Homo sapiens: one gene and its partners. The protein of the gene in region 2 purifies or fractionates together with the protein of the main gene of each other region. This does not show direct contact. Each region holds a gene or a part of one and is shown on either strand. Other genes may lie near its edges.

Region 1 (2,374 bases), on a different chromosome or scaffold from region 2:
AATATGCCTCTGGTGAGAGCCACAGCTGGTGATAATTAATGTGTTTGTTGGAATGTGTGTTTATGAAGCAGACAGGGTACTTGGGAACACAGAGGGCAGACTATAATCATCTCACATTGTCAACCCTGGGTGGGCACAAGAAAAGTGGTAAGAAAGCCTGAGCTCCTTTTCTGGGAATGCTTGGAAATAGTAGTTTGCACTGGCCCCAAGAACAGGCGCAGTGGTCTCTGAAGCCTGAGACTCTGAGTCTCACTGCAAGACTTTACCTAAAGGAGACACAGCTGTAGAGTTCTTGACATACGCTGCAGACAGCACTCCTGGAGTTGAGAGATGAGATCCAACCTCACCCAGCCCCTTCAGTCGGGGCCAGGTGTGGTGGCTCACACCTGTAATCCCAACACTTTGGGAGGCTGAGGCGGGCGGATCACTTGAGTCCAGGAGATCTAGACCAGTCTGGCCAACATAGTGAAACCCCGTCTCTAGAAAAAAAACAAAAATTAGCCAGGTGTGGTGCTGTACGCCTGTGGTCCCAGTTACTCACAGGCTGAGATGGGAGGATCCCTTGAACCTAGGAGGTGGAGGCTGCAAGGAGCCCAGATCTCACCACTGCACTCCAGCCTGGTTGACAGAGCAAGCCCCTGTTTCAAAGAAACCAACAGCAACCCCCACCCCCGCTAAATTCCAGCTAGGTTCAGTCCTAGGTCAGACTCCATGTAACTTTGGTCTTGCTTTCAGACAATGGCTTTGGCCACAGCCGTCTTGTGAAGGAAAACCTGATTGACTACTTCATCCCCTTCCTGCCTTTGGAGTACCGTCACGTGAGGCTGTGTGCACGGGATGCCTTCCTGAGCCAGGAGCTCCTGTATAAAGAAGAGACACTGGATGAAATAGCCCAGATGATGGTGTATGTCCCCAAGGAGGAACAACTCTTTTCTTCCCAGGGCTGCAAGTCTATTTCCCAGAGGATTAACTACTTCCTGTCATGAAGGCTAGAGGAAGACTTCCTGGAACTGCCTTTCTTCCACTAACAGGACCCTGGGACCTGTAGGAGCACCCCGTTTGGGACTGTGAGGTGTTTGAGGGTGTGGACTGGCATCCAGCAGCCACTAACAAACACACAACTGGTGTGTAAAAGGCAGGCCTTACATTAGAAGCCAAGCCAATCCTTTTTCTTTTTTTTGGAGGTCCCACCGAGATAGATAGGAACTTGGATTGCTGAATTCAAAAACAGAGCCCATTCTTAAGATCACTTGGTGCCTTAAAGACACGCATTCCAAAGTGGAATGTGGTTGAAGAAAGTGGGCCAGGTGGTTGAAGAAAGCCATGTGGGAGCTCAGCAAATCCCAAGGGCTTATTATGACACTCCAGATGGTCTCCTTAGCATCTCAGCTCTTCTGCAAGGAAGAGCTTGGGTGTTAGGCCTCAGAGGCTGTAGGGTCCTTGGGTTACAGAGCCGGGGAGAACGAAGTTCTGTGACCCAGGGGTGGAGAATACACTCTAGGTTTGCAGGCTGGTGGGCTTTCAAATTGGTACTTCCAGAGGAAAGCCAAGCTGCTTCTGTTGTGAGCGAATCAGCCAAGAGCCTGAGGCTGAAGGGAAAAGTACACAGAGGAAGATATTTTACAAACCAGGTCAGTGTAGGCCAAGACTTATGGTCTACAGATTTTGGCGGGGGAGGGGGGACCTTTTCAAAGACAATAGGGGGTCTTGACATGTTTGTTGTATGTAAAGATGATAAGATTAAAATTTTTGATTTTCCTAAAATCCTTGGCGTACTTTCTGTTTCTGAGACCTAGCAAAATTTCAAACAAACACTGGGTAATCCTGATAAGGCCTGGCAGAGACAGGGCAGATGCTGGCACACACGGAGCTGGCAGGGTATGTGACTGGTCTGCCTGTCTAGTCTGTTTGCTTTGGGACCACATCAGTGAAGCCAAGTCATGCCAACCTCCTACTGAAGAGACTCCCATAGCACATTGCTCTTATATATGAAAATGTTCACTCCTGTACTCTCAGCTATAAAAAGAAAAGCAGTCATTCTGAGGATTAAATGGCACCGTGTAGACATGTAGCACTGTGCCTAGACACAGTGTTCATTATGTGCCTTTCCCCTTTTCTTGGTTCTTCTCCCATGCCTCTGGAATAACACAGGTCTTTTTTCCCTATGTTTTTTATATATTAATTATACACACATATAGAGTCAGGGTGTCACTATGTTGCCCAGGCTGGTCTGGAACTCCTGGGCTCAAGCTATCTTCCTGCCTCAGCCTCCCAAAGTGTTGGGATTATAGGCGTGAGCCACTATGCCTAGCCTTTTCTGTCTTTTCTATTTGTCATCATCTCACGTCCTTTCTTAATTTAAGCCTTCCTCACA
Region 2 (3,660 bases):
TTCCTGGTTTTATTTGTTAGTGTGTAGAAAATGCTAGACATTTCCTCAATGTATGTTTATTATTCTACTTCCTAAGTAAAGCTACTTTTAAAATAGGTTTGGTTGCTTCTTGAAAGATAGTGTTACAGGAACCCTGCCAAAAGTACATCGAACAGGTGCAGTTTCTGGACATTCCTTGAAGCAATGTGGTCATCAAATAAGTGGTAAGTTGTGAATTTCTTAGCTACATTTGAGTTAATATTGGATCTCGCTTAGAACAGCTTTTGCTCAAAGTTTGTACTGCTACAGCTTTTTGGAAGGCATCACTCATAAAGATAGGAGATGGGGCAGTATTCTGGACACAAAAGAGGGACCCATATTCATCTGGACACTTCTATTGTCTTTATAAATCAACACATACTTAATGAGCCTCTATTATTTATGAGGTTAGCGCTCAAGTGTAAGATTTGCAGAAAATGAATCCAAATAATTGTGTCTCGTTTCCAGATAAGAATTTTTAAGAAAACACAAGGGAACATCTCTCTCAAGTTCACTTGAGGGTAATTTTTACATCAGTGATTCTCAACCAGCAGTGATTTTGTCTCTTCCACTGGGGACATTTGACAATGTCTGGAGACATTTTTGGTGGCTACAACTAGGGAGGATGCTATTAGCATTTACTAAGTAGAGGCCAGAATGTTTGAATGCTGACCAACATTCTACAAGGCACAGGGCAGTCGTCCACAGCAAATAATTTTCTGGCCCAAAACGTCAACAGTGCTGACATCAAGAAACTCTGTGATATACCACTAGGCCCAAATTGAAGAACTGAGTTCTGCAAATCTTGCTAAGAATAATACTTCCTAAAGGAAACTTGAGGACTAGGATGCTAGAGAACTTTGATTCTGACATCTGAAGCTACTGATGTCTTGGGAAACAGTTTCCAATGCTATCCTAATAAATTTAAGACAAATGAACTATTTCTCAAACATGACTGGGACTGATAAGAAAGTGAAAAGTGCTGAAAAGATTCAACTGATGGGTTGTCAGAATCTTAAAATAACTGCTGTTATTCTATGTATGACTATATATCATTACTATTTTATTTTCATTATGCACAATTAATTTTGTAGGTTCAAATTTCAGATGTTTTTAAATTTGTCATCCTTTCCTCCCTCATTGATATCACCTCTTCAATACGTACACACTTTGAGCCTGCTGTTTGCATTTTAACCAGTTATCAAAGGATGGCAATGCCTTCATTATAAATGTGGGCCTGACTTAGCCAGTATAATAGGTGTAGTCTACGTGAGGTGGAGTACATTTCCTATTTTAAAAGATCAATTTTTATGTTAATCCAATTTGGTATAAATTATTCGAGTAAGTGCTATTTCTGATTGTTGTATCTTGTAGCAAAATTTAAAGAAAAAGTAATTTGTGCCTTTCTCAATATTCCTGTTATTGTTCATGTATTCTAAAACTCACTGTTACTCACTTAGCTTGCTTTTAATGTTTTTTAAAGTGAAAAATTGTTCCCAAGTACATAAAATCTCTACACTCAAGAACAATTCTAGTCAAAAGCATTTAGAGCTTCCGTATGAACACTTAAAGAGTTTTTATTTGTAAGAGTCGCATCCCAACTCTTAGCCTGTTCTTTTCTCACATGCAGAAAAATAGGAAAGAGACTTCGTTTCCACAGTCTGCAAATTCCTGTGTTTAAGAACCACAGTGAATAATCCACCTCCCTGCCCAACTCATCGTACTGTCATATAGTTTTCCTGACAGTTTGTGTATTTTCTGTCTTTCCCACCCTTAAATTTAGTTTTATGACTTCAACCATACTTCTTAGGAGTGGAAAGGTATCTGTAGTAGATTATGGTTTATTCCACATAATCTTGGGGAATAAAACTTTAAAAAAGTATACAGTTTATACTTCTGGTTACATTACTTCCTTAACCAAAAGTCTAACCAAGAAATTTGAATCTTTAAAAAAAAAAGAGGCCGGGCGCGGTGGCTCACGCCTGTAATCCCAGCACTTTGGGAGGCCGAGACGGGCGGATCACGAGGTCAGGAGATCGAGACCATCCTGGCTGACACGGTGAAACCCCGTCTCTACTAAAAATACAAAAATTAGCCGGGCGTGGTGGCGCGCGCCTGTAGTCCCAGCTACTCGGGAGGCTGAGGCAGGAGAATGGCGTGAACCCGGGAGGCGGAGCTTGCAGTGAGTCGAGATCGCGCCACTGCGCTCCAGCCTGGGCGACAGAGCGAGACTCCGTCTCAAAAAAAAAAAAAAAAAAAAGAGCCTAATTTTGCTTCACTGTCTGTGAAAAGAATTATCTGTATCTTTTGCATGTAAGACAAATCTCAATGAAAAGGGTGCTTAAATAGAAGTTAACACTATTTTAAAGCAAGAATGGAAGTGGTTTCATCATGCGTAAACAACAACTCTCCACATTTTGTAATGATTGATCTGGATGCAATTTGTCATCAGACAGGAGAAGTCGAAAGCAAAGAAATAACACTGGGAGATAGAGAAGCTCTTTCATTCAATGCGAAAGGTCAAAGGCACATCAGTTTCTTTAATAATGCAAACCTCAGCACACATTATCAGTGTCCTCATTATTATTGCCTTGTTTATTTCCCACTGCTCATTGATAATTTCAACGTGAAATTTACCTGTATTGCTGCATGCATCTTGCAGTTTAAGAAGTGAAGTAACCCAATTTCAAAGCTAGTGCTTTAGGGAAAATATTGGATTGTATTTACTTCAAGCAGAGTTCGATAATTTATGTACATAATAAAAATTTTAAATCCCTTAGTTAATATAGCAGTTGCCAAAACTGGGCTATTATCATTCTAAACTACCAACCCAAATGGTAGTGGGTATCTAATCTACCTCTAGAAAGAAAATGGACTGTATTTGCTCTATGTATTTTTCTTGTACAGCTTGCCATCGAGACATTTATAAAGGAGTTGATATGAGAGGAGTCAATTTTAATGTGTCTAAGGTTAGCAGTGTTGAAGAATGCCAAAAAAGGTGCACCAGTAACATTCGCTGCCAGTTTTTTTCATATGCCACGCAAACATTTCACAAGGCAGAGTACCGGTGAGTACAATTCAAGGTGTGTGTTCTTTGTATTGGTGCCTCCAGGATTTCACTGTATTCTTCTTAACCTCTTTTGTTCCCAAACTAAAAACCAAACAGGGCTTTTATTCTAACCACTTTCCTCATTTACTTACTCTATTTTATTTTTTTATCTTTTATTTATTTATTTATTTATTGAGATGGAGTCGCGCTCTGTCGCCCAGGCTAGAGTGCAGTGGCGTAATCTCGACTCACTACAACCTCCGCTTCCCGGGTTCAAGCGATTCTCCTGCCTCAGCCTCCCGAGTAGCTGGGATTACAGGCGTCCGCCACCATGCCTGGCTAATTTTTGTATTTTTAGTAGAGTCGGGGTTTTACTATGTTGGTCAGGCTGGTCTCGAACTCCTGATCTTGTGATCCACCCACCTCAGCCTCCCAAAGCGCTGGGATTACAGGCATGAGCCACTGCGCCTCGCCCTTCATTTTTTAATTAAATAATTCATTTAATTTCATTTGTTTCTCTACTCTTTTCCCCTGGCATGTAATTGTACCGCATCTTCAAAGCCTGACATCCTCTTCCCCTACTTCTCCAAAGC
Region 3 (3,660 bases), on a different chromosome or scaffold from region 2:
CTAAAGATGCCCAATGTGGATCATAAGGATGGGAAAGGAAACAAGGACTCAGCATAAGATAAAATAAGTAGTTCAGCACTCCAGACTTGAGCTTGGATTTTGGCTTTGCCACTTAACTTTGAGATCATAGGCAATTTACTTAACTTCCCTAAGCTCCTCTGTAAAACTGGGAAAATAGTAGTACTAACCTACAATTCTTGTGAGTTTTAATTAAGATAACATCTGGAAAGTGTTTAGCATGATGCTTGGCAAGTAGTAAGTTTTCAATAAATGTCAGCTCTGAGTAAGCAAACCTGGCTATAGTGGTCTCTTTCTGGTAGCCGAGCAGAGTGGATGGCATGCTAAAAGTGTAAGGTGTTTCTATACCTACCCAGGATTGATTTAATGAAGTCAAGAAGCAGTTAAAGGAGGCCAGGAAGTAACCAATGTATTCTATCTGGCTTCTATATTCAGGAAACGAATAAAAGCGAGGGCACCCCTACCTCCCCTCACACACCCCCCAAAAAACCCTGAAGTCAATAAATATCCTACTGGCACTATCTGTACTGGCAAAATGCAGAAGAGCTTATTATTGCACTAGCTAAGTAAGCCCTCTGGATCATTCATTCATTCACCCATCTATTTATTAAATGCCCATTATGGGCAGACACTGATGAGTCTAAGGAATGGGTTCAATTCATTTTAGGTAATGAAGCCAGAGAGACATCCTCAGACTTCTGGAAACCTATAAATCTTAGTTATTTTTCCTGCAAATTACATTGCTCAATTTAATGTTTAACAGTATCTGTCCAAAAGACTAAATCACAATGTTTCCTCCTGTGAAATGATTAATCTGGAAAACCTCAAACTGGGCAGTTTATGACTGGATATTTTTATGTGGTTCCAAGAGCAATGTTTTTCATAGCAAGCCTCAGTGGCTCTACAAATACACACACATACTGTTCTGTTTCCAGTATCTATACCCAATAGAGCAGGAAAAATAAAGGACCTTTTATGTTTTGGTGAACTTGATCCTTCCAGGGTTGAATCTAGTTCCTTGGTTTTGACTTGATGCCTTACTTAGAAGCCACCAATATATTATGTAATGGTCTTATGGTCACTTGTGTTCAGGTACTTCCTAAAAGTCCTTATATTCAAATAGGAAAGGGCTTCAGCTCAATGTTACTTACTGATAGAGATTTTTCACAGACTGTTCAGTGCTAGTCAAGCTGAAATATGGTCCTTCTGACTTCAGATCATCAGCCTCCCCTCGGCAGAAGCCCACCCGAGCTGGAAGCTGAAGCTGGACATTGTAAGACTCTTTGGGGCGGGTTCCAAGGAACTGCAGGCCGTTGGCAGGATAAAGAAAGAGGGCGTAGCTATCAGACCCATCAGATGCCAAAACTGCCTGGAAAGTGTTCAGCTGTGAGGAAAAAAAAAAAAAAAGAGAGAGAGAGAGAGAGAAACATCCTGTAAAAAACAAATAAAAGAAGAAAGAAACAGAATGCAAGCAAAGCATCATAACGTGCAAAGAACTTCCCCTTTTTCAGGATTCCTCCAAATTGTTTTTAAACATAACCTTCTTTAAAATTTCCTCTTCAAGTTAACAATATAATTTCATAAGCAATATTATTTATTATTGCAAATACCATTTGTCAATTTAGATTAATAGTTGAAATACGCATTGGTAAAACATAGGTTAAAAAATATATACTTTGTAAGGTTTCAAACTTCTCTCATGTAAACTCTTTCAGAGCTAAGAGCAATCAGCAAAATTAACTTGTCCATCCTGCAGTCACTGCCCTAGTTTATAACCCTAGGCACTCAGCATCTCTCATTTGCATCATTCATTCATTCATTCATTCATCCATTTATTAAATGACCACTATGGGCAGGCACTGTGTTAGGCACTAGTTGGTCAAAAGGCCTCCTTACTGTCTCACAGCATCACTCTCTTTCCTCTTCCATCTACCCTTTCATACGAGCATCAGGGTTATCCTCATTTCACAGATGAGAAAAAGACACAGGGGCTAACAGGTCTTCCTCAGGTCAGGTGGCAAGTATGTGGTGGTGGGCCAGCCAGCTCTAGAGCCCACACCCTAGGACACCCTAACCCCTCCTCAACATGGCATTCAAGGTGAGTTGTAACCTGGCTGCATACGTCCCTCCCAGGCTCAGTTCCACTGCATCTTTGTCAGACTATTTAATAGTCCCCATTTGTACCATGTCCTTGGATGCTTCTACACTTTGTTCGTGGTTCCCTGTGCCTAGAAAGCCTCCTAACCTTCAAATGCTGCCACTCAGAGGTGTTTGTGATTCCCTATAGAATAATTTCTGTTCTCTGAACCTCTGTAACACCTTTATGGGCATCTCTAGTGAGCATTCACCTCATTATGCTTGGTTAGTTGTTTATATGTTTGTAAACACCATTCATTTATTCATTCATACACTAATTCAAACAGCCAAGTGTCTACTTAAGCACCAGACGTTATGCTTGATGCTGAGGATGTGAAGGAGCAAAAGACAGGCTTTGCCCAGGAGAGTCTCACGGTGTAGGACTGGGAAACAGCCATGGTTGAAATGGTAGGAGAGTCACTGGAGAAGGTGGTAGAGGCCAAGAGCCGGGGTGTGTGTCCAGGATCTCAGGGTGGAGGTTGGGAGGTGTCACAGAGGCAGCTGGTGAATGTTATAAACACTGCAGGAGCCAACACAGACCAGAGAGGGACCAGGAGCCTGAATCAGCTGCCAATTCAACACCCAGGTCCTTATAGGATCACTCCTTAACATTCTGTTTACCCTCATATTTTCAACAAGATGAGATTTTTGCCTTTACCTTCATTCAGCGACCGCTCCTCCTAAAGATCTGTGAACAGTGCTTGATTCTCAAAAAGCTGTTATGTTTAGGCTTCTGAAACTGTCTCTCTCTCACTAAATCACACTACTTTTACAATTTAGTAAGGAACTGGGAAGGTATTTTTAAAACACAACTTACTTCACAAATAATGTGACTCTTAGAAATATTATTTACTGGTAAGTATCATTACCTTTCCATTCTGCTAGACAGACAAACTCGGGCACAGAGAAGAACATCACATTTCACTGAAGGAAACAGCAAGGAAGGAATGGGCTCTTCCCTTTGTTCTAAGTCTACTCCCACAGTTGTTCTAGCTCTTTTCTAATGTTAATTTTTCCTTTCAATGTTTAATTTCAAAGTAAGGTTTTGAGGTTTTGCTAATAGGATAAAGAAATATAGATGTAACACACTTTTCAAGAGAAAATAAAATACAATCAGCAGTTCTTTTAGTTCTCTAACCCAGAAAAAACAACATCTTGCTTTGCTTTTTTCATTCATTCAATTCACAAAGTAACAGGTGCCTAGTTTATTTGTTATTGTTCCAGTTGTTGATTGTTCATCAGCAAAGCTTGACTTTTCCAAAAACAAAAAGCAAGAAATGTTTTTAGAGCTTCTCAATACTAGGAAGCCACAACTACTGCCAAATATAAACAAAGGCTGTTCTGCCTCATGTCTATCCATAAGATAGTCGACATCATCAACTAATGTGGACTCAATAACTTCAGAGTTATACATTAGTCAGAATAAAGAAAAATCAACTAGGGAAAGAAAAGTACTAGAGGAAGGAGAAAAAACCCCATTTCAAAAAGCTAAGCTTTCAAAGCTCC

The links.
Region 1: the proteins of KLKB1 (region 2) and TOR3A purify together in Homo sapiens (affinity purification with mass spectrometry; one large-scale study listed by BioGRID and IntAct). This does not show direct contact.
Region 3: the proteins of KLKB1 (region 2) and NID2 purify together in Homo sapiens (affinity purification with mass spectrometry; one large-scale study listed by BioGRID and IntAct). This does not show direct contact.

The regions. Positions count from the first base shown.
Region 1 is NC_000001.11:179,094,233-179,096,606, forward strand, and holds the end of TOR3A (torsin-3A precursor), read left to right. Parts: intron 1-735; coding exon 736-986; 3' UTR 987-1,764; downstream 1,765-2,374.
Region 2 is NC_000004.12:186,233,856-186,237,515, forward strand, and holds part of KLKB1 (plasma kallikrein isoform 1 preproprotein), read left to right. Parts: intron 1-96; coding exon 97-203; intron 204-2,925; coding exon 2,926-3,085; intron 3,086-3,660. UniProt on the Homo sapiens protein: Participates in the surface-dependent activation of blood coagulation. Activates, in a reciprocal reaction, coagulation factor XII/F12 after binding to negatively charged surfaces.
Region 3 is NC_000014.9:52,058,955-52,062,614, forward strand, and holds part of NID2 (nidogen-2 precursor), read right to left. Parts: intron 1,403-3,660; coding exon 1,170-1,402; intron 1-1,169.